Linked DNA regions of Homo sapiens. The protein of the gene in region 1 purifies or fractionates together with the protein of each later gene. This does not show direct contact. Each region holds a gene or a part of one and is shown in the gene's direction. Other genes may lie near its edges.

Region 1 (7,779 bases):
TTGTTTTTGTTTTTTTTGAGACAGAGTCTGGCTCTGTCACCCAGGCTGGAGTGCAGTGGCACGATCTCGGCTCACTGCAAGCTCCGCCTCCCAGGTTCACACCATTCTCCTGCCTCAGACTCCCGAGTAGCTGGGACTACAGGTGCCTGCCACCACGCCTGGCTAATTTTTTTATATTTTTAATAGAGACGGGGTTTCACCGTGTTAGCCAGGATGGTCTCGATCTCCTGACCTCGTGATCCGCCTGCCTTGGCCTCCCAAAGTGCTGGGATTAGAGACGCGAGCCACCGCGCCCAGCTCTGTCTGTTTTTTACAATATTTTGTAGAGATGCTGCCCAGGCTGGTCTCCAACTCCTGGGCTCAAGTGATCCTCCCACCTCGGCTTCCCAAAGTGTTGGAGATTACAGGCGTGAGCCACCTCACCCAGCCTCTTTCTCTCTCTTTTTAAAAAATTGTTGGCTGGGTGTAGTGGCTCATGCCTATAATCCCAGCACTTTGGGAGGCCGAGGCGGGTGGATCACTTGAGGTCAGGAGTTTAAGACCAGCCTGGCCAACACAGTGAAACCCCATCTCTACTAAAAATACAAAAATTAGCTGGGCTTGGTGGCACGCGCCTATAATCCCAGCTACTCAGGAGGCTGAAGCAGGAGAATCGCTTGAACCTGGGAGGCAGAGGTTGCAGTGAGCCAAGATCACGCCACTGCACTCCAGCCCGGGTGACAGAGCGAGACTCCATCTCAAAAAAAAAAATTGTCATTATTTTTTACATTGTCTTGTTCCTCCAATGAGGAACCTCTTTCTGTCTCTTACAAAGTCACTTGCATTGGATTTAGGGCCCACCCTGACTCTGACCCAGGATGACCTCATCTTGAGATCCTTACTTTAACCATATCTGCAACGACTCGGTTTCCAAATAAGGTCCCATTCTGATGGTGCAAGTAGGCACATTTTTGGGAGCCGCTATGTAACCCACCCTGGGGAAACTGAGGCAGGGCAAGGTGAAGCAGCTTCCCCAGGCCACACAGTTCTCTTTTAACCCCAAGTCGGCCTGGGTCAGAGGATGGTGATGGGGTCAAAGTTGGGGGCGGCCCCCTTTGTTCATCACTGAAAGGACAGGGGTCCCCATATCACGGCCTCTTTCTAGAATAGACTCTGACGAGGTAGCTTCAACCAGAAAGGGGTGTGCAGTCTGCCGGTGGGAGACCAGCGTGTCCCGGGTGCAGTGTGGACAGGGCGTTGGCTGAGTGAAGCCTTGGCTGGCAGGGGCCAGGTCATCAGCAGGCTGCCTCTGTGTTTCGGGGGTCCTGGCACTGGGCATGGCGCCACCCAACTTGGGGCACCCAGGAGGGGCCCTACTCATCTGGGCTTCCAGTCTCCCGGGCTGACCCAACAGACAGAGGAGGAACTGCCACTCTGGGCTTGACACATAATTGCTTTTTTTTTTTTTTTTTTTGAGACGGAGTCTCTGTCGCCCAGGCTGGAGTGCAGTGGCGCGATCTCAGCTCACTGCAAGCTCCGCCTCCCAGGTTCACGCCATTCTCCTGCCTCAGCCTCCTGAGTAGCTGGGACTACAGGCGCCCGCCACCACGCCCGGCTAATTTTTTGTATCTTTAGTAAAGATGGAGTTTCACTGTGTTAGCCAGGATGGTCTTGATCTTCTGACCTCGTGATCCGCCCGCCTCGGCCTCCCAAAGTGCTGGGATTACAGGTTGAGCCGCCGCGCCCGGCCTCGATGCATAATTTCCTTTCCGGTGGCTATTCAGGGAGGGGCGTGGGGGTTGGGGGGAGGATATTCCACAACTTCTTTGTAATAAGCAGCTTTAGGACAGAACATTCAGGCCAGGCTCGGTGGCTCACGCCTGTAATCCCAGCAATTTGGGAGGCCAAGGCGGGTGGATCACTTGAAGTCAGGAGTTCGAGACCAGCCTGGCCAACAGGGTGAAGCCCTGTCCTTCCTAAAAATACAAAAATTAGCCGGGCGAGGTGACGGGCACCTGTAATCGCAGCTACTTGGGTGGCTGAGGCAGGAGAATCGCTTGAACCCAGGAAGTGGAGTTTGCAGTGAGCCGAGATCGCGCCACTTGTACTCCAGCTCTGGGCAACAGAGTGAGACTCCGTCTCAAAAAAAAAAAAAGGCCGGGTGCGGTGGCTCATGCCTGTAATCCCAGCACTTTGGGAGGCCGTGGCAGGCGGATCACGAGGTCAGGAGATCGAGACCATCCTGGCCAACATGGTGAAACCCCATCTCTACTAAAAACACAAAAATTAGCTAGGCATGATGGCAGGCGCCTGTAGTCCCAGCTACTTAGGAGGCTGAGGCAGGAGAATGGTGTGAACCCGGGAGGTGGAGCTTGCAGTGAGCCGAGATCACGCCACTGCACTCCAGCCTGAGTGACAGAGCGAGACTCCGTCTCAAGAAAAAAAAAAAAAAAAAAAAAAGAACATTCATCTTTTCTCAGGTTCTGGGTTCTCCATCCCCAACAGAAATAACCTGGAAAATCCCTGCGGCAACACGTGTGAAGAAGTGCAGCTTTCTGAGTCACAATCTATTTGTAGGAATTTATCCCAAGGTGAGGGGGACCAGATACCTGTACAAAGATCTGTGGAAACAAGATCGTCTATCACAGTGATATATGCTAGTGAGACACCAGGAGAAACCAAAATATCCCAAAGCAGGTGACAGATCCATGACACGGAGTCCAGCGCAGACCATCAGGGTGTGGAGACGGACTTTTGGCTATTGATGAGTGTGAAGTCACGGGCCGCCTGCAGAACGCAGTATGTGACGTGAATCCCTTAAAATATGTATTTAGGCTGGGCACGGTGGCTCATACCTGTGATCTCAACATTTTGGGAGGCCGAGCTGGGAGGGTTGTTTGAGCCCAGGAGTTTGAGACCAGCTTGAGCAACATAGCGAGATCCCATCTCTACATAAAAGTTTCAAAATTAGCCAGGTGTGATGGCACGTACCTGTAGTCTCAGCTACTCAGGAGGCTGAGGGAGGAGGATTGCTGGAGTCTAGGAGGTCGAGGCTACAGTGACTCGCGTTTATACCAGTGCATTCTAGCTTGGGCAATAGAGCAAGATCCTGTCTCAAAAAAAACTTTTTAAAAATACATTTCAATGTGGAGGAGAAGGCGATCAGAAGGATGTCTGACAAGAAGGTGAGAGAGGTTACCTCTACACAGTTGGCTTATGGGGTCTTCTTTTTGTTTTTATTTTTCATAATTTTCCAAATTTTGCACACCGGACACCTAGTGTTGTGTTGTTTTTCTCTCTCTCTCTTTTTTTTTTGAAACAAAGTCTTGCTTTGTCACCCAGGCTGGAGTGCAGTGGCATAATCTCGGCTCACTGCAACCTCCGCCTCCCGGGTTCAAGTGATTCTCCTGCTTCAGCCTCCCGAGTAGCTGGGACTATAGGCACCAGCCACCACGCCCAGCTAATTTTTTTATTTTTAATAGAGACGGGGTTTGACCATACTGGCCAGGCCGGTCTTGAACTCCTGACCTTGTGATCTGTCTGCCTCAGCCTCCCAAAGTGCTGGGATTACAGGCATGAGCCACCACGCCCAGCCGTGTTATTTCTTAAGGCTTAAAAAAATTCTTTGAGGCTGGGTGTGGTGGCTCACGCCTGTACTCCCAGCACTTTGAGAGGCTGAGGCGGGTGTATCATGAGGTCAAGAGTTTGATACCAGCCTGGCCAAGAAGGTGAAACCCCATCTCTATTAAAAATACAAAAATTAGCTGGACACAATGATGGGTACCTATAATCCCCACTACTCAGGCGGCTGAGGCAGAAGAATGACTTGAACCCCGGAGGTGGAGGTTGCAGTGAGCCCAGATTGCACCATTACACTCCAGCCTGGGCGACAGAGCGAGACTCCATCTAAAAAAAAAAAAAAATTCTTTGCACTGGTGTGGGACGATGGTGACGAATCCCTCAGCCATCTGTGGGGCGCTGCTGAGGGCGTGGGGGGCATTTCTGCACGGTGAAGCAGAGCTGGTGGGAGGCTGCCCGAGGGAAGCTGGTGCTGGGAGGGTTTGCAGAGAGGAAAAGGGCAGTTTATGGAAAAGGCCTCTGGGCTCTGTCTGGAGCCGTCATGCCGGCCTTCACGGCATCCTTCCGCACTTAGAGTCCTTTCCATCTCCTGGTGGCTGGCACAGGGCCAGGGCTGCACTCACAGCTGGCCAGGGTAGGGCAGGGCGCCCGTCCTCAGGGCCACTGACTGTAGGGCTAACCTAGGGGCCTGGTTCACCCCTCTCACCTGGGGCTTCGCTGATAAGCCTGGTTCACCTCCTCACCTGGTGGCCTCGTTCACCCCCTCACCTGGCGCCTTGCCTGATAGCCTGGTTCACCCCTCTCACCTGGGGCCTCTCCTGGTGGCCTGGTTCCCCTTCCTCACCTCGTGGCGCTGGTTCACCCCTCTCACCTGGGGCCTTAACTGGTGGCCTGGTTCACCTCTTCACCTGGCGCCTTGCAGAGTAGCCGGGTTTACTCCTCTCACCTGGGGAGGCACGAACTGGCCCGGGCTGACTGACCTCCCTCACCTGTTTGGCTTTAGGCTCTGGGGCCCCCCTGCCCGGGTGTTTCTGGGAGGCTGGAGGGTCCCACGTGAGCTCCACCGCGGGCAGCTGGAGGGAGTGGGGCAGGACGCTGAGCGCCGGGAGGGGTGTGGCCCTCCTGTCCTGCCCGCGGCCCCACACCGGCCCCAGTCCCGCCCGCCTCGGTCCCTGCCCCGCGCGCCGACGTCACCGGGACCTCCCGATCCTCCCGGCCCAGGCCGAGCTGCCCACGCTGCTGCCCGGGGCTCGGTGCCCGGCGCGGCCTCTGCCGGCTCCGGCGGGCGCGGGACTGCGAGGTAGGGGGGCGCGCGGGGAAGACTCGGGGGCGCAGGGACCGAGAGGGACCTCCGTGCCGGGGCGGGTGGGTAGGGGCAGCTCCGGGTCCAGCCCGGCCCGCGCACCAAGTCCCGAGGGCGCCCGGGCGGCGGCGGCTACGGGCGCGCGGGGACCGCGGAGACGCGAAGGGCGCACTTGGCGAGGGTTTGGTGCAGCGCCGCGCCGGGGTCCGCACAGCCCCGGCAGGTCCTGCAGAGGGAAGGCCGGGCCAGGGAAGGGCCACGCGCCCCCTCCCCGCCATCCTCTCCCAGGCCAGGGCGACCTGCGCGCTTCCCGATGGGAGCAAACTGGGGACGGGTCGGGAATCCAGGGCCAAGCGCCCGAAAGAAGGCGTTTCCGGGCTGGGGCGAGCCAGGTGGGTGCGGGACGTCCCCGGGGAACCTCCAGGGCGCCGAGAATCTCGTCGTGCCCAGGGCTCCCCGCAGCCTGTGTATGAGCCGGGGAGGGAGAAGGCTTCCTCCCCCAGGAGACTGAGGGAGAAGGCTGTGGATATGATCCCTGCAGGGATGTAAGACAGGTCTCAAAACCAGAAAAGCAAGGGAGGGGTGACAGAGAAATGGCAAACTTTACAAAGGACAGGGGAGGGCAGGGACCTGGGTCCTTTCTGCCCCCATCACGGGAGGGAAACACTTGGCAGAGGAGTTTGGGGTTCGCAGGTGAGGAGAGAGAACAGGAAGCCAAGAGTCTGGCCCGGAGGCCACTACCCCTGCGGTCTAAGCCCCCGGTTTTCCCTCCTAGCGAATGGAAACTGAGAGGTGAGAAACCCCCAAAACCATCCGTCCGTCTGGTTCTGCCTGAAGGTCTCCGCTGTCAGCTAATGAATAGCTCGATGCAGCTGCTGGGAGGTTTTGCAAAGCGCATTCAGAATAGCGAGAATCAGAGCATGGTTTCTTGCCCAAAGGCCAGGCATCTGCGTGGTCAGATGGGGGAGCATGAGTGCCCGGAGCTGTGCGGTTTAGGGCAGCCTGACCTTGGATACCTGGTTACTGGGCCAGTCTGGCGGCCCTTGTTGCTTAGAGCGGCAGAACCTCCCTGGGGGGGGGATGCGGACGTGCTCTTTTCCAGTCTTTGGACAAAAAAAGGCAAGGGGAGGAGGAAGGAGAAGCGTCTGAGTTTACCCATGGTATTAATAGCAGCAGGGCTGGAACTCGGGTGCTCTGGGAGAGGAGACGTCCTACCCCCTGTCCCCGTCAGAACATCCCTGCTCCAGGAGCAGCTGGGGTTCCAGTGTGAAGCGTGGCTTTGAAACCAGGCCCCGCTGGCCCCCAGCTGTGTCGCCAGGGCCAAGTCACTTAACGTCTGAGCCTCAGTTTCCCCACCTGAAACACCGCAGTGGCACCTGCGGCTCCGTGTGTGGCTTGGAGGACGCAGGCATGAGACCTGTTGGCTGCTGTCATGACTGCAGTTAGCAGAGGAGGGGGACACACTGTGACAGGGTCCAAAGGACAGCGAGAAACCTCCATCTGGGGGTCTCCTTTTTGGAGCATGGATGGGTTGGTGAGTGCCAGAGGGTGCTGCGAAGCTGACCCCCACTAAGGCGGCTCCCTCCCCGTGGGTACCCCCAGGGCTCACATGCAGCTCTGGCTCTATGTGAGGAGTGGTCTTGTGCAGAAATGACCTGGCAGGATGGAAGGACTCAGCTGGCAGCTGACAGTGGGGACCGGGGTTTTCCTGAATGACCCACGAAGACGAATGTGGCCACAAGGCTTCTTGAGAGGAAATAGTATGTGGGCAGACGTCATGCCCTGGATGCCCGAGAGCTGTACCCGTGTTAAGGGATGGAGGGAGCTAAGCGTTCTCATTCCTAGCTTGGAGCCTGTCACACCATTCTCCAGTCTGCACTAGGAGGTGGCTGTGTTTTTGTGTGTGTGTGAGAGAGAGAGAGAGACAGACAGACAGACAGACAGGGTCTTGCTCTGTCTTCCAGGCTGGAATGCAGTGATGCAATCATAGCTCACCACAGCCTCGACCTCCAGGGCGAAAGCAATCCTCCCATCTCAGCCTCCCTAGTAGCTGGGACCACAGGCATGCACAACCATGCCCAGCTAATTTTTAAAATGTTTTGTAGAGACGGGGTTTTGCCATATTTCCCCAGGCTGGTCTCAAACTCCTGGACTCAAGCGATTGTCCCGGGAGGTGGCTATTTTTAGAGCTTGCCTCTCACATCCTGTTGATCTTCCAGCCGGGCTAGTCTGGAGCTGGCGTGGCCACTCCTTCCCGGGCGGCTCAGGTTGGCTGAAGGTGGTGTTGTGTCTCTGGCTGGGTTTCCGATGTAGATGCTCTTGAGTTACCCACGTGCCCGCCACTGCTTGCGGGTGTGCAAACGGCCTCTGTGGTCGTGGCTCCTCTGTGCGTGTGCTCTGGTCCCCTGCAAAACTTGTCGCTGTGGCCCTTCCTGTTGCTCCCATTCGGTCCTCCCTGAATAACTTAGATGGGCCTGAGGTTGGCAGTTTGGGCCCAAGTCACACCTGGAACCAATGTGGTAGGGCTTGTGAACTTTTGGTAAAAAGAAGGCATTTCTCAGCCGGGTGTGGTGGCTCACCTCTGAAATCCCAGTGCTTTGGGAGGCCGAGGCAGGCAGACCACTTGAGGCCAGGAGTTCGATACTAGCCTGGCCAACATGGTGAAACCCTGTCTCTACTAAAGATAACAAAATTAGCCTGGCATGGTGGCATGCGTCTGTAGTCCCAGCTACTAGGGAGGCTGAGGCATGAGAATCGCTTGAACCCTGGAGGAGAAGGAGGTTGCAGTGAGCTGAGATTGTGCCACTGCACTCCAGCCTGGGTGACAGAGGCAAAAAAAAAAAAAAAAAAAGCATTTCTCATTTCCTGATGCTTTGCCTGGAGTAGGAGGGTTTGCTGGCAGGGAAGCCTCTGACCAG
Region 2 (7,024 bases), on another chromosome or scaffold:
CTCTCAGTGTGAGAAGCCTGCCTTTTTTAGCTTTGTTCACAGATTTGGAGACCTTACTTTAACCTCAGATTTTAACATTTACCTTACTTTGCAGATAGCTTTCAGGACCTCTACCCCTACATGTTTTGACTCATAACATGTGTAGTAATGTGTTTTGACATCTAGTCTGTCTAGCCAGCTGCTTATTAGATATGCAGTAGCCAGAACCCAGATGAAAAGCCAGTTTACATTATTAATAGAGGTCATTTGTAACTGTCAAAGAAGCACTTCTAGAGGAAATAATTATCTGAAATCATGGGCAAGTTTTAAAAGTAACATATGCTCATTGTAGCACATTCAACTGTACAGAAGTATTTAAAGTCAAGAGTGACAATCCCACTCACTACTCCAAGCCCATCTGTTCCCACAACTGATGTTAGTCCTTCTAAAATATGCTTTACACACACACATCACACATACTTTCATCTGTGTGATTGTACATTGTCAATGTTTTTAAGTAGAATTGTAGTATACATTCATTTCTGCAATTTGTTCTATTTACTTTACAACTTAACCAATAGATCTAGACTACTGGGTCAAGTGTGAGCTTTAACACTCACTGGCTGCCTCTCTGAACCTTAGTTTCTTCGTCTGTAAAATGGGGAGAGTAATGGCATCTACCTCATGGGATGGAATGGACTCAATACCTATCAAGTGCTTAGAACAGGGCCTGCTTTATTACCCACACTCAGAAAGCATAAGCTAGTAGTAATTATAGTAGAAGCAGTAGTACTACTAGTAGTATCATGTCAGTCTTTTCAATGGCTATCCAGAATTCATTATGTGGGTAAATCATAATTTTAAAAATTAATCCGCTACTGATGGTGCCTGGATTTTACTTAACACCAGTAAGACTTACCATGAAACTTCCCTGCTGTTGCATTCAGGATCATCAATTTTGTGCCCTGCTCTGAACAAGACCAGTTCTGGTGAACCAATTTCAGGTGCAGCCAGCTCCAGAGTTCGGGAATCTGTGGTGGGAGGTGGCAGATGGGCTCTAAGATGTGGATAGAAGGTGTATGTGCCCTTCTGTTTCCAGCAAATCGCCATTGCTCGCGAGGGTGACCTCCTGACCAAGGAGCGGCTGTGCTGTGGCCTGTCCATGTTCGAGGTCATCCTGACCCGCATTCGGAGCTACCTGCAGGACCCCATCTGGCGGGGCCCACCGCCCACCAATGGCGTCATGCACGTCGATGAGTGTGTGGAGTTCCACCGGCTGTGGAGCGCCATGCAGTTCGTGTACTGCATCCCTGTGGGAACCAACGAGTTCACAGCTGAGTGAGTACCCCCCAGAGAAGGCAGGGTTACCCCCAACCTGCCTGTGCTCCTGCAAGTCATGGGGCTGCCAGAGTTCAGCCAGAAACGTGGGCAGGGGGTGGGGGTGGTTGGCCAACAACTACTTTGTTGAGTGTGTTGAGCTGACTGCATTGGCAAGAAAGAGCCCAGTAAGGGTTTGATAGTAAGACCCTCACTGCCTGCCTCACCCCCACTACACTGTACTACTGGAAAATGAGGAGCCTTTAGGAGTCCTTAGAGCAGACAGCAGAGCTAGTTCTTCCTGCCCTCACCCAGCTACATGTCTAGGACAGAGTGGAAAGGCAGACAAGGCCTCCCCTCCAGCAGCCAAGAGCTCTAGGAAAAAGGCGTGGTGGGGAGAGGAGGCTTCCTGGAGAAAGTGGTGTTGATGAAGCTGTTTCAGAGCAGCGCTAGCCTGTAGGCTTCCAGTACAGTGATGGGGAACTGGGGACACCTGCCCGGGTTGGGGCTGCTGCTTGAGGACAAAAGAGACAGCCAAAGGATGACTCTACTGCCATCCAAATTGCCTAGGTCTCTTGAGAGTTGGGGGCCAGGCCTCTTGAGAGTTGGAGCTTTGTCAGAACCAAAAGGACTCAGCCTCAACCCCAGCAGCATCTGCCCACCATGGCCTGTCCCTTCCCTTTCAGCCTGCTTCTGGCCAGTTGGCCTCCTGGTTTGAAATGGCCCCTCACCTGCTAGGTGTTCTTTTAGCTCCTTTAGAGAGTCAAGACAGATTCTCCTTTGACCTGCACGGAGTAATCAGCCACATACATCTCAACAGCTGGGTGGGTTTTTCCTTGCAAATTCAGAGCGTCTTTAGAGCTGATTTTTTTTTTTTTTACATTAGTGATGCAAATGTAATTTGTGGCCGGAAGGACTTATGACATAACTACCATCCCTGCAACTAATGAACCCACCCTCACAGCTTCCTTTGTACCCATTTTATAGGTTAAGAGACTTGGCCCAAAGACAGGCCTGCTTAGTAGCTGTACTCCTGGCCCAAGATGAGGCTCCCTCCCTCCCTGCCCTCCTCCCCCGACCTCTCACTCCAGCTGCTTCCTCCCCCTGCTCCCAGGCAGTGTTTCGGCGATGGCTTGAACTGGGCTGGTTGCTCCATCATTGTCCTGCTGGGCCAGCAGCGTCGCTTTGACCTGTTCGACTTCTGTTACCACCTGCTAAAAGTGCAGAGGCAGGACGGGAAGGATGAAATCATTAAGAATGTGGTGAGCAGGCTGGTGGCTAAGGCCTGGGAGGTGGGGCTGGGCTGACAACCAGGCTTTTACCAGAAAAGCAAACAAGGAGGAGCTGCTTGTGAAGGCCAGCTCCCCACACGGCAAGTACAAAGATACTATAGGCTGGGGACCTGCTTAGAGGAAGTCGTGAGGTCGTGAGTCACCCACTCATCACCTACTGCCATGAATCAGTTCACCCCGAAGGGCAGGGCTGGGCTCCAGACCGGGAGCACATCTTCCCTGTCCCAATCAGACTCTGCTGATGCCAGTTTCTCACCTGTACAAATATTCACCAAATACCAGAGTTGTACGGGGCACCTGGATGGGATAGGTACTGGCGTGGGGTGAGCCAGGCTGCTATGGGAAGGGAGAGAAGGACCCTTAAACCAGGCTGAGGGCAGAGAAAGCTTCCCAGGAGAGGGAGGCTGTGTCTGGGCTGACTCCAGAATGGCCCGCAGCAAAGAACCAAGCAGCAAAGGTGGTATGGGGCGGGTAGGATGCTCCAGACAGCAACAGTGACAGCAGAGGCACTGAGGCAGGAAGGCGGATCGAAGGGTGGGTCTCAGGGACCCAGTGAGAGGAGAGAGAGGTAAGAGCCACCTCACAAAGGGCTTTTTTAAAAAATACACATAAAATAGTTTCAATGGTAATTTTCAGTATATGATTCAGTGGCATGAAGTACACAAGTATTGTACAATCATTCCCAACATCCACCTCCAGAGATTTTTCATCTTCCCCAACTGAAACTCCGGGCCCATTAAAAAATAATTCCATTTTCTCCCCAGCCCCTGGTAACCATCATTCTACTTTCTCTATGCATTTGACTACTCTAGGTACCTCATATAAATAGAATCACACAGTATTTGTCTTTTCGTGACTGGCTTATTTTAGTTAGGATGTCTTCAAGGTTCATCCATGTTGTAGTGTCCAAACTTCCATCCTTTTTATGGCTGTATAATATTGCATTGTGTATATAGACCACGTTGTGTTTGTCCACTCAGGTTGCTGTCACCTTTTGGGTATTTTTGAAAATGGTTAATTTTGGCTACCATGAAACATGGGTGTACAAATAACTCTACAAATTTCTGCTTTCCATTCTTTTGAGTATATACCTGGACGTGGAATTGCTGGATCGTATGGTAATTCTATGTTTAACTTTTTAGAAACTGCCATTCTGTTTTCCATAGTGGCTGCACAATTTTACATTCCCACCAGCAGTACACAAGAGTTCCAATTTCTCCACATCCTCATCAGCACTTATTCTTTAATAATAGTCATCCTGAGGGGTGAAAAAGTTATCTTGTTGTGATTTTGATTTGAATTTCCCTAATGACTGTCACTGCTGAGTGCTATATTCATGTGTTATTGGCCATTTGTATATCTTCTTTAGAAAAATGTCTATTCAAGTCCTTTGTCCATTTTTTTAATTGAGTCATTTTTGTTGAGTTGAAGTTCTTTACATATTCTAGATATTACTTATCAGATATAATTTGTGATTATTTTCTATTTTTCGGTTGCCTTTTCATTCTCATGGTGTCCCTTTGATGCATGAAAGTTTTCAATTTTGATGTAGTGCAACTTTTTGCCTTTGCTTTTGATGTCATACCCCAAGATATTATTGCCAAATCCAACATCATGAAAATTTTTCCCCTATATTCTCTTTTAAGAATTTCAGTTTAATCTCATGGTTACGTCTCTAATCCATTCTGAGTTAATTTTTTGTATATGGTATAAGGTAAGCGTCCATTGTTATTTTTTGTGTGGGTATCCATATTTCCCAGCACCTTTTGTTGAAAAGGCTGTTTCCCCCATTGAACAGTCTTGGCACCCTTGTTGAAAATCATTTGATCATATGTGTAATAGTGTATTTCTGGGCTCTCTATTCTGTTTTATTCATCTGTACATCTACCTTTTTACCAGTGCCACAGTGTTGTTGATTATTGTAGCTCTGTAGATCGTTTTAAAACTTGGAGAGGGTTTTTACGGTCCAGTTAACACTTGATTGCCAGATCCAGGGGATTCCATAAAAGGACTTTAAGAAAGTGACATGATCACTGATGCAGGGGACCCTGGACCTCAGTGACTTCTCCTGTTACTCCCTCTTTCCACCCCCACTTTGTCCTGCCCTAACTTGAACATCCCCTTCCTTCTGTAGCCCCTGAAGAAGATGGCCGACCGGATCAGGAAGTATCAGATCTTGAACAATGAGGTTTTTGCCATCCTGAACAAATACATGAAGTCCGTGGAGACAGACAGTTCCACTGTGGAGCATGTGCGCTGCTTCCAGCCACCCATCCACCAGTCCTTGGCCACCACTTGCTAAGCAGAAGATCCTGCAGACCCTTATCTGGAGGAGGAAGAGAAGCAGGAGAGAGAAAGCCACAGCCAGCCTGCCATAGGATCCAACTGGACAACGTGTGGGATGGACCTGGAAACAAGCACCTCCCCAAACACATCACCACTCCCTAGGGCGGGGCCTGTGCATGCTCTCCCATGACATCTCCATGCTGGTTTCTCCATAGCATAAATGAAAAAAAAAAAAAAAAAGTAAACAGGGCAGTGTGTGCTTTTTCTTTTCTCCCCCCTCAACTATATTAAGAACTCCTAGTTTCACCCTTTCTCCATCCCATCATCCCACCTATCTGTGGTTGCTTCCCAAGACCTCCTCCCAAGATAGACATCTCCTACCCAGTGCCCTTGTGTGACCCCAGGACTCAAGTCTCAGACTGTGAACAGATGTGGCCATGCCCAGAGACGCCAGCCTGGCCAGAAGGGCATGCCTCAGCTTACTACTTCATCTCTCCTGGTTCCCTCCCTGCAGTGCCCCGGGTGTCATCTTCTCCCACTCTGGGTACCAGGGATTCTACCACATAGGCTTCCCAAAGCCCCATTCTAACTCCCCTCTCTCAGGGAAGCCCTAGAGAGAGGTCCAAAAAGCATTCACAGCTGTATCACACTCTATGCAGGTGGGGTAGGAGACTGATCAGGCCTGCTGTGGGGAAGCAGTATGTATGAACACAGCCAGAAATGTCATAGTCCAAACAGGATGCTTTCAGGCCATCTCAGCTGCTTGATGGTGAGATGGTTCCCTTATTCCTTCAGGAAAGGCTTAGCATTGGGCCACATAGGGGAAGCAGCTTTGAACAAATCAGTCATAGCACTGCCTATAGCATTAGCCAGTGACCAAATTAGGGACAACGTCTTGGCACAGAATTGCTTATCAAGGAACATTTCCACAAGAAAGAAAATATTAAGGGGTTATTTCCACAGAAGCCCAAAACGTCTTGGAAACACAGAGGTGAGGAGGAGGAATAGTAATTGTCAATGAGCTTTTAATACCAAGATACACCCCCTGCCCCCAAAGAAGAGTCCTCTTTTAGGGAATCAGAACCTTCATTGTCCTAGAAGCTGAAAGATTCTTGGAACATTTTAGCTTTTACTCTCAACTTGCTGTTCTCTTTACATTCCTTAAGTTAGACTTTCGGGTGTGGCTTCTCTCCCAGGGGTAACATTTACTTCCATTTTCTAGACTGAACCAAAAGTCTTCTGCAGAATCTCCCACCGAGTGTGGTAAGAAGGAAGGACAAAAGGCTTTAGGATATAAATTTCATGTTACAGAGCATGTCATTGTCAAAGGAAATCTGTGGCCCTGAGATTTTAAGAACATAAAATGTGACATTTGATATTTCTCCAGCCCAGGGAAGTAAGATGGTTAGCAATGGTTGCCTTAATCAAATGGTCCCATTTTTAACCCCAAAGGAAGTGCCCACAGCAAGAGGTTTGTGTGATGCACTTATGTCCTCCGGTGAGGAAAGGGGGCCACATATGAAAGGCCCCTTAGGTCAGATCCTGAGAGTAGCACATTTGAGTGCAGATTCCTGGGCCCCACCTCAAACCTACTAATTCTGAATCTCTGGGAATAGGGCCAGGAAATCTGCCCTTTCTACAAACTACCCAAGTTGTTCTGTTGCACATCAATGTTTGGGAACCACTGCTGTAAGGGAATCATTCTGGTCACCTTGAGCTTTGAGCTACCACTAAGCCATGAAAGAAAATACATCATACAGGGAAGAGAGAAGGGAGGAGGTTCCAAGTAGTAACTGGCAGATCCTCCTGTCTGGAGGTACCACCTTCTATTCTGGTTTCTGACTTTTCCTTCTTGATGACCATAGATGTGTTCCAGAGGCAAAAGAGACACATTATCCCAGATGGCAGAACATGCTTTCAAAACATATAAAATGTCAAAGTTCCAGATCCTTCTACATCTTTAGTCCTGTCTGAGGATGGTAGCTGGCTCTCTGTAGCTGATAGATGGCTAGAGTTCCATCCAAATCCTTGACCACGACTTCATGGAGATTTGAATAATCTATTTGATGAGATTTCTATTTCAATAACCCACCTCTCTCACCCCACATTCATATCCCTAAATTTGACCCTCTGGGCCGAGTCACATTACC
Region 3 (7,024 bases), on another chromosome or scaffold:
GTTGCTGTTGGTAAAATGTTTTTGCTGATGTTTAGTATAGTTTCCTCATTTTTAGAAATTCACATTCAGTAAGCCCAGTTTTATGTTTGTGTTTGTGTGTGTGTGTGTGTGTATGGGTGTGTTTGGTGGTGTTTCCCCATTTTGGTAGGTATGGGGGAGGGAAAAATATACGATACAGTTTCAACTGGAACACTTAGATATTTTCAAGTGTAGCCTGTAATGCACCCTGCTCATAAGGCAATTTTGGCCTGTATCCCCAGTACATATTCTAGTGGTCTGGAACATAAGTGATGAGGTAGAAGAAGGAGGAAGAAGAGCAGAGGGACGGGCAGCCAGAAGCAAGAACAAAAAGGCAGGGAGCACTGGGGCAGATGGAAGTGAAATATGGGGTGTGGGCATAAGAGACAGGGAAGAAGCCGGAGCAGAGGTTACAGCGAGACTTGTCAGGGCCACAGATACTCTGAGGTGCTGGAAGATTTTGAGTATCCCTACAGTCACACTTCTTTTTAGCTGTTGGTTATTTGGGTAGAATTCTGCTTTCCCGTGGACAGTATCAGTCTTGGTATCTGCAGAGGTGACAAGATGGTGGTCCATGAGGACAGTGAGGAAGCACTTCGACTCACCACCCACCTTGACACCGACAGCCTGCCAGCTTTCCCATCACCTAGGACTGCCTTTGGCAAAGCTCTGTGCAAATGTTGTTCCCTTTCATCATGCTGACTGAGTTCAGCACAAACAGCTTGTTTACTCCCAACAGTCAGTGAGCTATAGTTGATGACCTGAAAGAAAATGAATGCACTCTCCGGATTCGTGCAAGCAAGAATGGGAAATGACAAAAATACCATGGAATAAAATAGAATCTGGGGTTCTTCACGGTTCGATGTCTTGGGGCTGCAATGAGGCAACAAAAAATATTCCCTAGTAAAATGACGTGTGGAAAGAGGCCTTAAGGTATAGCTGGTGCATGAAGTGATGGCCTATGCTTTCGAGTGGGTGGAAGCTTCTTGAGGAAAAATGATCTTGGAGAGTTACTGCTTCCTACCTTACCCCTCATGAAAGGGGGCCGGGTTCTGGCTGAGAACAGGGATATTCATCCTCAACAGCAGAACCTCTAGGAGACAACTGGCAAAGGTGTATTGTTTCACAAAGATAATTTCTTCTGCAGTACCGCAGAATATGTTCTTTTCTTTAATTAAGAACAAATTGGTTGGGGCAGATTTGGGGCAAAAATGACTGGTCAGACATGTGGAATGCCAAGCTTCTTTGCATTAGGAGCAAGCTTTGATGGAGCGGGGTCACCATTCTGCTTGAAATCGACTAGCAGTGGGGAGGGAGTTCTACTAGGCTACCCTTTGAAATTGATAGGGATGTGGGCACCAAGGAGAGGCTGGGATGAGAAGAGATGCTCTCACCAGCCAGGCTGTGGCAGCGATTTGCTCACCAGTGTGTGAGGGTGTGTGTTGTGTGCACGTATGTGGTGCACACCTGTGTGTGTTTGTATTCAATTGGTCCTTCAACAATGGCGTCTTTTCAGAGGGTCTTCGGGGTGTTATGAGAGACTATGGGTACAAGTGATTTATTCCGTGTAATTTAGAAGTGGGCCTATAGTCCTCTTGTGTTTTGGGAGACTGTGCTCCTGGAAACTGATCCCAGTGCTGAACAGTTTTAAGGTAGCAATGAAGAGAAGCTTGGGATCTGAGCTGTTGCAGACTTTTCCTTGTTTTCCTTCCAGAACCATTTATTCTTTCACTCACTCAAGAATACCTATAAGAATACCTATAGTAGATAAGCACTGTTCTACTTTAGGGACACAATGCCTTGGGGCCTGCTCCCCAAGCAGCTCATTGCTAGTGTGTTAGTTAGCTTTTTCTGCATAATAGACCATCCCCAAAAACTTAGTGGCATGAAACAACAATTTATTCTGCTCCAGTTCTTTGAGTCAGCAGTTTGGGCTGGGCTCACTCAGGTGAATGTGGTCAGCCACAGCTGGCTAATCTACGGTGGCCTCAGTTGGGACGTTTACCTCTCCTTCATGGGGTCTTTTATCCTTCAGCATCCAGGTTTGTTCACATGGCAGCTGGCAGGGCTCCGAGGCAGAGAGCAAAGGTATGCAACACTTTCATTGCGTTCAGTAGGTCAAAACAAGGGACAAGGTCAGCCCAGATTCTAGAGATGAAAAAATGGGCCCCATCTTTTCATAGGAAGAGAGGTGCAAAGTCACATTGCAAAAGGACTTGATGCAGGGAAAAGTGGAGATTTGTGGCCATTATTGCAGTCTGTCTTCCACAGCCAGTAAGTACACACATGTGCACAAGCAATCTAACCACCTTATCCTGAGGTCAAAGATATACGTCATGACTTTCTTAAATCTCAGTGTGACTTGTCTGTATGTTTTGGGTAAATTGTAGTGAAAAGTTCTGTCATAGTGGCATTCATTTCATTTTGTTGTTTTTTGAAGGAAGGACAGTACTTCAATGCAAAACCTAACGCCCATTCAGAATGTTGGGTGAAAATTTATGCACACAAAATCTTTGAAGTTCAACCCTATAGGATGCAAGACCATGAGATTCTGTCCCATATGCTCCAACGGGGGAGGGAGTATTTATCCTGTTCACCAGTGATCCCAAACTCTAGCACATAGTCAGCACTCAGTGAGGTCTGTTGAATGAAGGAGTGGGTCAGTGCAGGTTTTGAAATGAGGATATAACAGGGAATGTGAAGGGCCTGACTGAGCCCTGGGAGCCTGTATGTGAATTCTACAAGGCTCATTAGAATGGTCCAGCCATCTGATATGTTTTTTGTGTGAGGTTTTATGAACAGGACACAATGGGGTGTGATTGGGCTGTCCTTTTCTAAGCATAAAACACGCATGCATTTGATATTTGTCAGTGATGTTTGCTCTTCATCCACTGTTTCCCTTTTCTGACTGAGGACACATGTAAAGTGAATGGGCTTACATGTCAGGAGCAGATCAGAAAAGATTGTTAACTTTTATTTATAACTCTGTCAGTCATTAAATAAGCAAGATACAGAGTCTTATTCTCTAACAGCCTTTAGAAATAAGCCAGATACCCACTAATCTAGTTTCAGAGCCCAGGAATGCACCACATGACACCTCAGCATTCCATCTAGACCTTGGCTCTGGAGCTCTGTGCATTTTGTTCTTCCGAAGTTGAAAGTTAAGTGGGAGAAGCAGTCTGTTTTAATAATTTAAGTGTATCTTCCAGTAGGACTTGGCTTTCAAAGACCATTGAGAGAGGGGAAGGTCAAAGGGCTGCTGCTGTCTTCTGAGGACACCAGCTTCTTGAGCTTTCCTGACCAGTTGATTCCCCTCTCATCGGGCTGTCCTTACATTCTGGTCTCCTAGTTGTGGGGCTCTATTGCTTCTTATTCAGTTGAATTCAGAATACTTTACAGCATCATCTCATGACTTGGAAGTTTTACAGAGAGCAAATCAGTGTTTTAAAAGATGCATTTGGGGGCCGGGCGCGGTGACTCATGCCTGTAATCCCAGCACTTTGGGAGGCCGAGATGGGCGGATCACAAGGTCAGGAATTTGACACCAGCCTGGCCAACATGGTGAAACCCTGTCTCTACTGAAAATACCAAAATTAGCTGGGTGTGGTGGTGTGCACCTGTAATCCTAGCTACTCAGGAGGCCGAGGCAGGAGAATCGCTTGAACCCGGGAGGCGGAGGTTGCAGTGAGCCTAGATTGCACCATTGCACTCTAGCCTAGGAGACAGAGCGAGACTCTCTCTCAAAAAAAAAAAAAGATGCATTTTTGAACTTAATTATAAAATACATACGAATCATAAGGCAACAAACCAATGAATTATCAAGAATAAACACTGATATTTAGGCCTTGACACAGGTGAAGAAATCGAATATTGCCAGCACCCTAAAAGTCCTGTTTGTACCATACCCAGTCATCACCCCTTCTCTCCTACCCAAGTGTAACTACCATCCTGAGTTCCGACATCCATAGATTAATTCTGCCTGTTTTTAAACTTTATATAAATAGAATCAACACAGAGTGTGCACTTTTGTGCCTGGCTCAACATTATGGCCATGCAATTCATCTATTTTGTTGTGGGAAGCAGTGGTTGGTTCATGTTTATTGATGTACAGATTTGCATTGAGTATACCATAACTGATGTACCAGTTAATGGACATTTGAATTGCTTCCAGTTTTTTACTATTATGAACATTCTTAGGCGTGTCTTTTGGTACCCATATGCACACATTACTGTTAAGTGTATATATTTAGGAGTGGAATTGCTGTGTCATGGAGCATCCATATGTTCAATTTTAGTAGAGATGCCCAGTTTTCCATCGTGGTTGTTCCAGTTCACACTCCCACTAACAGTGCTGTATATCCTAGTTAACATTTGATATTGTCGGTCTGTTTAATTTTAGCCATTCTGGTGCTATGCAGTGGTATCTCATTATGACTATAATTAACATTTCTCTCTTACTAGTGAGGTTGAGCATCTTTCCACATGTTTAATGACTAATCTGATATCTTTCTGGTGATGTCCCAAGTCAACTATCTTGCCAATTTTTCTATGGTTTGTCTGTCTACTTAGTATAGATTTGTGGGAGTCCTTTTTAAATTCTGGATACAAGCCCTTTGGAGGTCATATGTGTTGCAGATAGCTTCTCTAACTCTGCCTTGCATTTTAACTCTCTTTGTGGTAGCTTTTAATGAACAGAGGATCTTCATTTTAATGTAATCCAGTTATCTGTCCTTGTGCCAATACCACAGCCTTAAAAGGTAATGCAGTTTTATAGTAAATCTTGAAATGTTTTGCATATGTCTTCCGGCTTTTTCTTTTTCAATATCGCCTTGTCTATTCTTACATTGCATTTCCATAAACTTCCATCCATTGCATTTCCATAAACTTTAACATTCAGTTAATGTCTGAGATTTTTATTGGAATTGTATTAGATCTGTATAGATCGATTTGGACAGAATTGCCAACTTAATGATCTTGAGCCTTCTACTACATGATCATGGTCTATTCCTCCATTCATTTAAGTCTTCTTTAATTTTGCTTAGCAATGTCTTATATCATTCCATGTAGAAGTCTTGAACATCTTTTGTTAGATTTATTCCTATGTGTTTGGTTTTTTTAATGTTATTGTAAATAGCATCCTTTTAAATTTTAATTTTCTGTTTATTGACAATATTTAGAAATACAATTGATGTTTATATTTACTGTAGACCTAGTATCCCTAATAAACTCACATGTTTTTTGTTGTTGTTGTTTTTGAGTTGTTGTTTTTGTTGTTGTTGTTTTTGAGTCTCACTCTGTCACCCAGGCTGGAGTGCAGTGGTACGATGTTGGCTCACTGCAACGTCCGCCTTCCGGGTTCAAGCGATTCTCATGTCTCATCCTCCTGAGTAGCTGGGATTACAGGCATATGCCACCATGCCTGGCTATTTTTTTGTATTTTATTAGAGATGGGCATTCGCCATGTTGGCCAGGCTGGTCTCGAACTCCTGGCTTCAAGTGATCCACCTGCCTAGGCCTCCCAAAGTGCTGGGATTACAAGTGTGAGCCACCATGCCCGGCCTAAGCTCAGATGTTAAATTTTAGTTACTTGTAATATTCATATGTAGATTATTTGGGTTTATCTATGATACACAGTCATATCATCTGTGAATAATAACAGTATTATTTATTCTGTCCCAGCCTTTATGCTTTTAATTTCCTTTTCTTATGTTCTATACTGGCTCTGTGCCTTTGGAGCTAATGAGGTTTTTTCCCTCTTTTCTTCCAGATGAGGCTGAGGCACACATTGACTATGAAGATAACTTCCCTGATGACAGATCTGTGTCATTCAGAGAGCTCATGGAGGATTCCCGGACAGAGGCAGATGAGGACAGGGGTCAGGGAGACTCCTCTGAGGAGGCTCCAAAACAGGACCGTCTGGTCTCCATTTCTGTGGGGAGAGAAAACATAGCCCGGGATAAAGTCTTTGTGCCAACCACAGGCTTGCCTGGTGCTGGGAGCAGTGTCCCCGCAGATTCACCAGGATCACGGCTGCTCCAGAAGCACTTGTTCTGGTTTCCTGCTGAGGCTTTCCACAAGCCTGGGTTGGAAAAGGAGGTGGATGATGACACCAAAAAGCAGTTTTCTGCTGGAGACAACCACAGTGGTGTAAAATTGGTCCCAGGTGAACCTGAAACCAAGGTGATCTACGGCAACACTGATGGTCCCTCGGGGCCATTTGTGGGCAAGAATGACAGCAAGGCAGGAGATCCAGTGGTGAGCAGCAGTGATGAGTCCTGGTTAGATGGCTACCCTGTGACAGAGGGGGCTTGGAGGAAGACAGAGGCAGAAGAGGAAGAAGATGGGGACAGAGGGGATGGGTCAGTAGGGCTGGATGAAAACGTCCTAGTTACTCCTGATCAGCCCATTCTTGTGGAAGTTAAGAAGCCCAAGAGTAGCACCCTCACACCAAGCGAGGGCATGACCCATAGTTCAGTTCTTCCATCTCAAATGCTAGATGTGGAAGCTTTGGCGCTCAGACCCGTGAATGCTTCCGAGACTGAGGGCATTGGGGATGGTGACTTGACGAAGTACCAGTCAACTCTACCCTGGAGATTCATCACAGAGGAATCTCCCATGGCCACCCTGTCCTATGAGCTCACCAGCTCCACCCTGGAGATATTAACAGTGAACACTGTCAAGCAGACACCTAACCACATCCCCTCAACGATCATGGCAACCACCCAGCCTCCAGTAGAAACCACTGTTCCTGAGATCCAGGATAGCTTCCCATACCTGCTGTCTGAAGACTTCTTTGGACAGGAAGGCCCCGGGCCAGGTGCAAGTGAGGAGCTTCATCCCACCTTGGAGTCGTGTGTGGGGGACGGATGTCCTGGCCTCAGCAGAGGCCCTGTGATCGCCACCATTGTCACCGTCCTGTGCCTACTGCTGCTCCTGGCAGGTGTGGGGATGGTGTGGGGCTACCGCAAGTGCCAGCACAAGAGCTCTGTGTACAAGCTGAATGTTG
Region 4 (7,024 bases), on another chromosome or scaffold:
GGAGAATCAGGGCACAGAAGGGGCAAGGCATTGCTGCCCAGATGGGCCACTTCTCAGGTTCCTCTGGCAACATGTCTGTGCTGAGCGATTCTGCAGGGATCGTATTCCCTTCCCGCCTTGACAGTGATGCTGGCTTCCATAGTCTTCCGCGTTCTGGAGCAAGGGCAAACATTCAGTCCCTTGAGCCGAGGCTGGGTGCCCTCGGCCCTGCAGGAGACATGAATGGCACTTTCCTCTACCAGAGAGGTCACCCACAAGCAGATGAAAACTTAGGCCATTTAGGAGGTGCCTCAGGGACTGGAACACTTTTGAGACCCAAATCCCAGGAGTTGAGACACTTCGAGAGTGAAAATATAATGAGCCCAGCGTGTGTGGTTTCTCCTCATGCAACCTACTCCACCAGCATCATCCCAAATGCCACACTGTCTTCCTCTTCCGAGGTCATCGCTATTCCCACTGCTCAGAGTGCGGGACAGCGGGAAAGTAAAAGTTCTGGCTCATCACATGCAAGGATAAAATCCAGAGACCACCTCATCTCCAGGCATGCTGTGAAAGGTGATCCTCAGTCTCCCGGTCGCCACTGGAATGAGGGCCATGCCACCATTCTTTCACAGGACTTAGACCCTCATTCCCCTGGTGAACCCGCACTGTTGTCCCTCTGTGACTCAGCCGTCCCTCTAAATGCTCCAGCAAATAGGGAGAATGGGTCCCAAGCTATGCCGTATAATTGTAGAAACAACCTGGCCTTCCCAGCCCACCCCCAAGATGTGGATGGCAAGAGTGAATCTAGTTATTCAGGGGGCGGAGGGCACAGCAGCTCGGAGCCCTGGGAATACAAATCCTCAGGTAATGGAAGGGCATCCCCCCTGAAGCCGCATTTAGCAACTCCTGGCTATTCCACTCCCACAAGTAACATGAGCAGCTGCAGTTTGGACCAAACGTCCAACAAAGAGGATGCTGGGTCGCTGTATTCTGAGGACCACGATGGCTACTGTGCATCTGTGCACACTGACTCTGGACATGGATCTGGGAATCTGTGCAATAGCAGTGATGGCTTTGGGAACCCCAGGCACAGCGTGATCAATGTTTTTGTTGGAAGAGCTCAGAAAAACCAAGGGGACCGGTCCAATTACCAGGATAAATCCCTATCAAGAAACATCTCTTTGAAGAAAGCAAAGAAGCCTCCCCTGCCACCCTCCCGGACAGACTCCCTCCGCAGGATTCCCAAGAAGAGCAGCCAGTGCAACGGGCAGGTGCTCAACGAGAGCCTGATCGCCACACTCCAGCACTCGCTGCAGCTGAGCCTCCCAGGCAAGAGTGGCAGCTCGCCCTCCCAGAGCCCCTGCAGTGACTTGGAAGAGCCCTGGCTGCCCCGCTCCCGGAGCCAGAGCACAGTTAGTGCTGGCAGCAGCATGACTTCCGCCACCACCCCCAATGTCTACTCCCTGTGCGGGGCCACGCCATCGCAGAGTGACACAAGCAGCGTCAAGTCAGAGTACACGGACCCCTGGGGTTATTACATTGACTACACGGGCATGCAGGAAGATCCGGGGAACCCGGCAGGGGGCTGTTCAACCAGCAGTGGGGTGCCCACTGGGAACGGGCCAGTCCGCCATGTCCAAGAAGGGTCCAGAGCCACAATGCCCCAAGTGCCCGGTGGTTCAGTCAAACCAAAGATCATGTCACCAGAGAAGTCACACAGAGTCATTTCTCCATCCAGTGGGTATTCCAGCCAGTCGAATACACCCACAGCACTCACCCCTGTGCCTGTGTTTTTAAAATCAGTGTCACCAGCAAACGGGAAGGGGAAGCCCAAGCCCAAGGTACCAGAAAGGAAGTCCTCTCTGATATCTTCAGTATCCATTTCCTCATCGTCCACTTCTCTTTCTTCTAGTACTTCTACTGAAGGAAGTGGCACTATGAAGAAGCTGGATCCAGCCGTGGGCTCTCCCCCGGCTCCTCCTCCTCCTCCTGTTCCCTCTCCTCCATTCCCTTGTCCTGCAGACAGGTCTCCTTTCCTTCCTCCCCCACCTCCTGTCACAGATTGCTCCCAGGGCTCTCCTCTGCCTCACTCTCCTGTGTTCCCCCCTCCGCCGCCAGAAGCTCTCATTCCTTTCTGCTCCCCACCTGATTGGTGCCTTTCTCCTCCCCGCCCTGCACTGAGCCCCATTCTTCCAGATTCACCTGTGTCCTTGCCATTGCCCCCACCTCTCTTACCTTCCTCGGAACCCCCACCTGCCCCACCTCTTGACCCCAAATTCATGAAAGACACCAGGCCGCCTTTCACAAATTCTGGCCAGCCAGAATCCTCCCGGGGATCCTTGAGGCCGCCTTCTACCAAGGAGGAGACCAGCAGGCCCCCCATGCCCCTGATAACCACGGAAGCATTGCAGATGGTGCAGTTGAGGCCCGTGAGAAAGAACTCAGGCGCTGAGGCGGCACAGTTGTCTGAACGAACAGCTCAGGAACAACGAACTCCAGTTGCTCCACAGTACCACTTAAAGCCATCTGCTTTCCTGAAATCCCGAAATAGCACAAATGAAATGGAGAGTGAAAGCCAGCCTGCCTCTGTGACAAGCTCGCTTCCGACGCCTGCCAAGAGCTCGAGTCAGGGTGACCATGGCAGTGCGGCTGAGCGTGGTGGCCCTGTGAGCCGCAGCCCTGGAGCTCCAAGCGCTGGGGAGGCAGAGGCTCGGCCCAGCCCCAGCACCACCCCACTCCCAGACTCTTCACCCAGCAGGAAGCCACCCCCCATTTCCAAGAAGCCCAAACTGTTCCTGGTGGTACCACCTCCGCAGAAAGATTTTGCAGTGGAGCCCGCAGAGAACGTGAGCGAAGCCCTCCGAGCTGTGCCCAGCCCCACGACGGGAGAGGAGGGCTCTGTGCACAGCAGGGAGGCAAAAGAGAGTTCTGCAGCCCAAGCTGGCTCTCATGCCACGCACCCTGGCACCTCGGTTCTTGAGGGAGGAGCTGCAGGATCCATGTCTCCCAGCAGAGTGGAAGCCAATGTCCCCATGGTTCAGCCTGATGTCTCACCAGCCCCCAAGCAGGAGGAGCCAGCCGAGAACAGTGCGGATACTGGGGGCGATGGGGAGAGCTGCCTATCTCAACAGGACGGAGCAGGTGAGTCTGGCTTCCTGGCTTCTCTCTCCTGTGCCCTCTGCCCATATGCAGCTGAACCAGATAGGGTTGTTGAATGCTCACACGTGGAAAGAACCCAGGTAGATCAGATTCCTGTTAAAGCTAGCAGTATGTAGGCTTCCTGTGTTAAAACACAGATTAAGTTACCAACTTTGCATTTTGTTATTATTTTTAAAATCTAGACCTAAAGGCATGGCAGAAAATAGGGGGATGGAGATGATCTGCAGCAGGCTGGGTATTAAATAGCAATGGGTAACACCTCCCTTCCGAAGAGCCGCGCAAAGAAACGTTGCAACAAAATTTAAGAGAGATGCCATGGGCGTTCCATACTTTAACAAAGAATGAGCTCTGGCTCTCAGGCTAGTGTCATTTCCTCCCTTCTTTGTAAACTATCAAACTACAGACCCACGGCATCTCCCTGTGGTTCTCACATTGTCGGGAATGGCAGGGAAGCAGCATATTTAGAAGCTTGGCTGAGGACTGAAATTCCAGTCACTTGTGCGTCTTGTATGCCTGCCTGCTCTTCTGTAGCTGGGGTGCCGGAGACCAACGCAGCCGGTTCATCCTCAGAGGCCTGTGACTTCCTCAAGGAAGACGGGAATGATGAGGTAATGACCCCCAGTCGACCCAGGACCACAGAAGACCTTTTTGCAGCTATTCACAGGTATTTCAAACTCCTTCCTCTGACTTTAATCTACTGTGTAATTCCTTCTTTCCAAGCAGCACCTCAATTTACTTTTCTTCCTTGAGGTTTCTTCTGTCACCCAATCATAACTCCTTAACTTTACTGTTGATTTTTTAGTGGGTTTCTACAGTTTTATTTCCTCTGGCTCCAATTTCTGTTTTACTTTGTCTCACTGATTTTTATGACATTGGGGACAGTGGCTCAATGTGATACGTTCTGGTAGGCGCTGCTCTTCCTGGCAAGGAGCGCAGTGTGGCAGTCATAAGACAGAGTATATTAGCAAGAGTCGGATTAAAGTGACTGACAGTGCAGTCAGGAGGAGGAATGCTATGTTCTGTGGACTTAGGATGCACAGACTAGCTCCATGGGACTCTCTTCCTAAAGATGTTTTAGTTTATTCTAATTTTTTTCATTTTACAGAAAAACCACAGTTATACAGAGCAATTTCTTTGGCTGCTTAAGTGTTTCTATAAAAGAGTACGGCCCTTTAAGCGGGAGCAAAAGAATGACTTATGCTTGTTAATATACCACTAGTGCCATCTACTGGCATCAGAAATCGTTGGGTTTAAAAACAAACAAAAAGGGTAAAATTTTCAAAGTAATGGCCTGAACTGTTACACTTTTTATATGTGGTCACCTTTAAGAGTAAATATGATTTAGCACTGAAGTTTTACTTACTGCATCACTTTTCTGATTGGAAACAGCTGACTACTCCCACACAGTGTCATCGTAAAAGCTGATGACTGTATATGTGCAACTACGTTAAGCCGTAATGCTGTATAAACCTTTTGCTTCCTTCTAGACTTCTCTACCACGGTATTTCCAGGTAACTCTAATGAATGTCCTTATGCTGCCAAGGCCTTATTTTGCCCTGAATGAAGATCCTTTCTTTTTTTTTAACCTCCTGAAACAAAGCATCCTGTAGAATCATTTGATTCTGTGTGTGAATGATCTTATGTCAGCACTGCTTTCCCAATTCTTGGACTCTCCCTGAAAAGACTATTGCATAAGATGAAAAACATAGTGCTGTACCTACCTGAAACTCTTCATGCAACACATTAACATCTAACTTGGTGTGGGGGGAACGAAGCCGGTGAATTAATGTTCTTGTCAAGAATTACGCTCTTTACGTCGCTCCTCTAGTGTTGGTATAATAGATCCTAAAGACTGCCCCTTTTAACATGGACTGGTTTCTTCAGTCTCATTAGAAGTGAAAAGGTAGCTGGTTGTCCAATTATTTCTCAAAACAGAGAAATGATAAATGATGCATCCTTTGAAACTTCAGTGGCAATTCTAGAAGTTCCCATAGATGTTTCTAACTCTTAACCACGCTAGACACATAAGAAGCACTCAATAAATATTTCCTGAATTAAATGAAACCAACTGGTATTTAACCATTAGAAGATTCTTCCAAGACTCAGAGTATTTCATTTAGTATGGAATGCACTGGGTTGCTAAATATACAGGCATATCTGTCTATTTATAATAGCCATCCACAGAGAAGATTTGCGTAGCCTGGTTGTTCTGTGTACTCGATACTTGGTTCCAGTGAGGAAACCCAACTGTTGTGGGTCCAAATTACTGCATATTTTTTCCCAAAAATATGCCAAAGGCCTCTTCTATATTTTGGCAACCTTCTTAAGGCATCGAAAAATGTGTTGTTTCTCTTACTAGGACGTTACATCGACTGCAGATGTAGAAATCGGTCAGTTGGTGTTACTCAGTGCACGTATGAGAGAAGTCAAAGCCAAATAGGCCTTAGGAATGGATTGCAGAGAGAGAGTGAGGACATATGCTAATTTCTGTTGTAGCGTTGAGAATAAATTAGCAGACATAGTAAAAATCCATCTACTGTCTGTGCTTTTTTAGGGCTTTATTTTTATGTCCTTCAGCGCTTAAGCTCATAATTTAAAATAAAGAATATCTAAGTTGAAACACAGCTTCCAAATTTTATAATGCAAATTAATTCGCTTCAGATTTAAAGCCAGATGGAAAATGTAGAACACCAGTTGAGGTGTGAAGTTTTTATATTTATTGAAGTAATTAGTTTTAAAATCAGTGTTAACTGTTTAAGCACTTTTTATAGCTCTCTTCATTAAAAATACATATTCGTGTGTGTGTGTTGTGTATGTATATGCAAAGAATTTGTACATTTAGATTTAATTATTTTAGTGGGCACCTGCTCTTGAGAGATGACAGTGCTTTCATAAAATCCCATCTTTCTTCCTTTTTTTTTTTTTCTTTTTGATACAGAGTCTCACTCACTCTGTCACCCAGGCTGGAGTGCAGTGGCGCGATCTTGGATCACTGCAACCTCTGCCTCCCAGATTCGAATGATTCTCCTGCCTCAGCATCCCAAGTAGCTGGGATTATAGGCGTGTGCCACCATGCCCGGCTAATTTTCGTATTTGTAGTACAGACATGGTTTCACCATGTTGCTCAGGCTGGTCACCCCATCTTCTTTCTTAATTCTATGTCTACAATTAAAGGTCATAGTTTTACTCAAGTTTAGTTGTGACTTGTTTAATGGATCTCAGCATACTCTCACCGTTTAAAATCTAAATTACAAATTAAGTCACCAGCCAATACCTAAAAGAATGAAATGAGCAGAGCTGCTTTGGGGAGTAGACCATGTAAGTGGTGAGGCCATGTGCTATAAGCTCAAGTCCTAGTTGTCATACTAACAAGTTACCTTTTCTCAGTTACCTTTTCTGAAACCCAAAGTGGTTGGACTAGACCATTTCTAACGTCTTTTCTAGCTCTACAGTTTCGAGATGTTAGGATGTCTGTAGTTTTGTCAGCCGGTCCTAACTCTTATCAGGGCAGACTGCTCTTGTTAACTACTGAGTGGGACCATGAAACCTGTATGGTAGGCCATGTTCTGCAGTCCCAAAGAGTCTGGTGCCCTGTCCACTCTGGCCACCCTTCAGACCCTGTATTGGGTCCTTACCATTTCCCAGCCTCTGCTTTAGTGGCATCTTTTTGACCAGAAGAATGGAGATGACGCCAGGAACACCAAGCCCAGGGCAGCCAGCATGGGCCCATGCTGCCCTCTGTCTTGCTGTGTAAGCCACGTAAAAACTAAATCCATTTTCTATGTGACATTCAAAGGTTTGTTAAGCACCTGCTCTATGCCTGACCAATTATGGCTATCACTGCATTCATGAGTACTGACAAACTGTGACCTATATACTGTTA

What was found.
Region 2: the proteins of AMZ1 (region 1) and CYFIP2 purify together in Homo sapiens (affinity purification with mass spectrometry; 2 studies listed by BioGRID and IntAct, with this or other methods). This does not show direct contact.
Region 3: the proteins of AMZ1 (region 1) and SUSD5 purify together in Homo sapiens (affinity purification with mass spectrometry; 2 studies listed by BioGRID and IntAct, with this or other methods). This does not show direct contact.
Region 4: the proteins of AMZ1 (region 1) and NHSL1 purify together in Homo sapiens (affinity purification with mass spectrometry; 2 studies listed by BioGRID and IntAct, with this or other methods). This does not show direct contact.

The regions. Positions count from the first base shown.
Region 1 is NC_000007.14:2,683,439-2,691,217, forward strand, and holds the start of AMZ1 (archaemetzincin-1), read left to right. Parts: upstream 1-4,763; 5' UTR 4,764-4,858; intron 4,859-7,779. UniProt on the Homo sapiens protein: Probable zinc metalloprotease.
Region 2 is NC_000005.10:157,388,111-157,395,134, forward strand, and holds part of CYFIP2 (cytoplasmic FMR1-interacting protein 2), read left to right. Parts: intron 1-1,078; coding exon 1,079-1,317; intron 1,318-2,410; coding exon 2,411-2,558; intron 2,559-4,722; coding exon 4,723-4,890; 3' UTR 4,891-7,024. UniProt on the Homo sapiens protein: Involved in T-cell adhesion and p53/TP53-dependent induction of apoptosis. Does not bind RNA. As component of the WAVE1 complex, required for BDNF-NTRK2 endocytic trafficking and signaling from early endosomes.
Region 3 is NC_000003.12:33,152,795-33,159,818, reverse strand, and holds part of SUSD5 (sushi domain-containing protein 5 precursor), read left to right. Parts: intron 1-5,785; coding exon 5,786-7,024.
Region 4 is NC_000006.12:138,426,492-138,433,515, reverse strand, and holds part of NHSL1 (NHS-like protein 1), read left to right. Parts: coding exon 1-3,123; intron 3,124-3,672; coding exon 3,673-3,805; intron 3,806-7,024.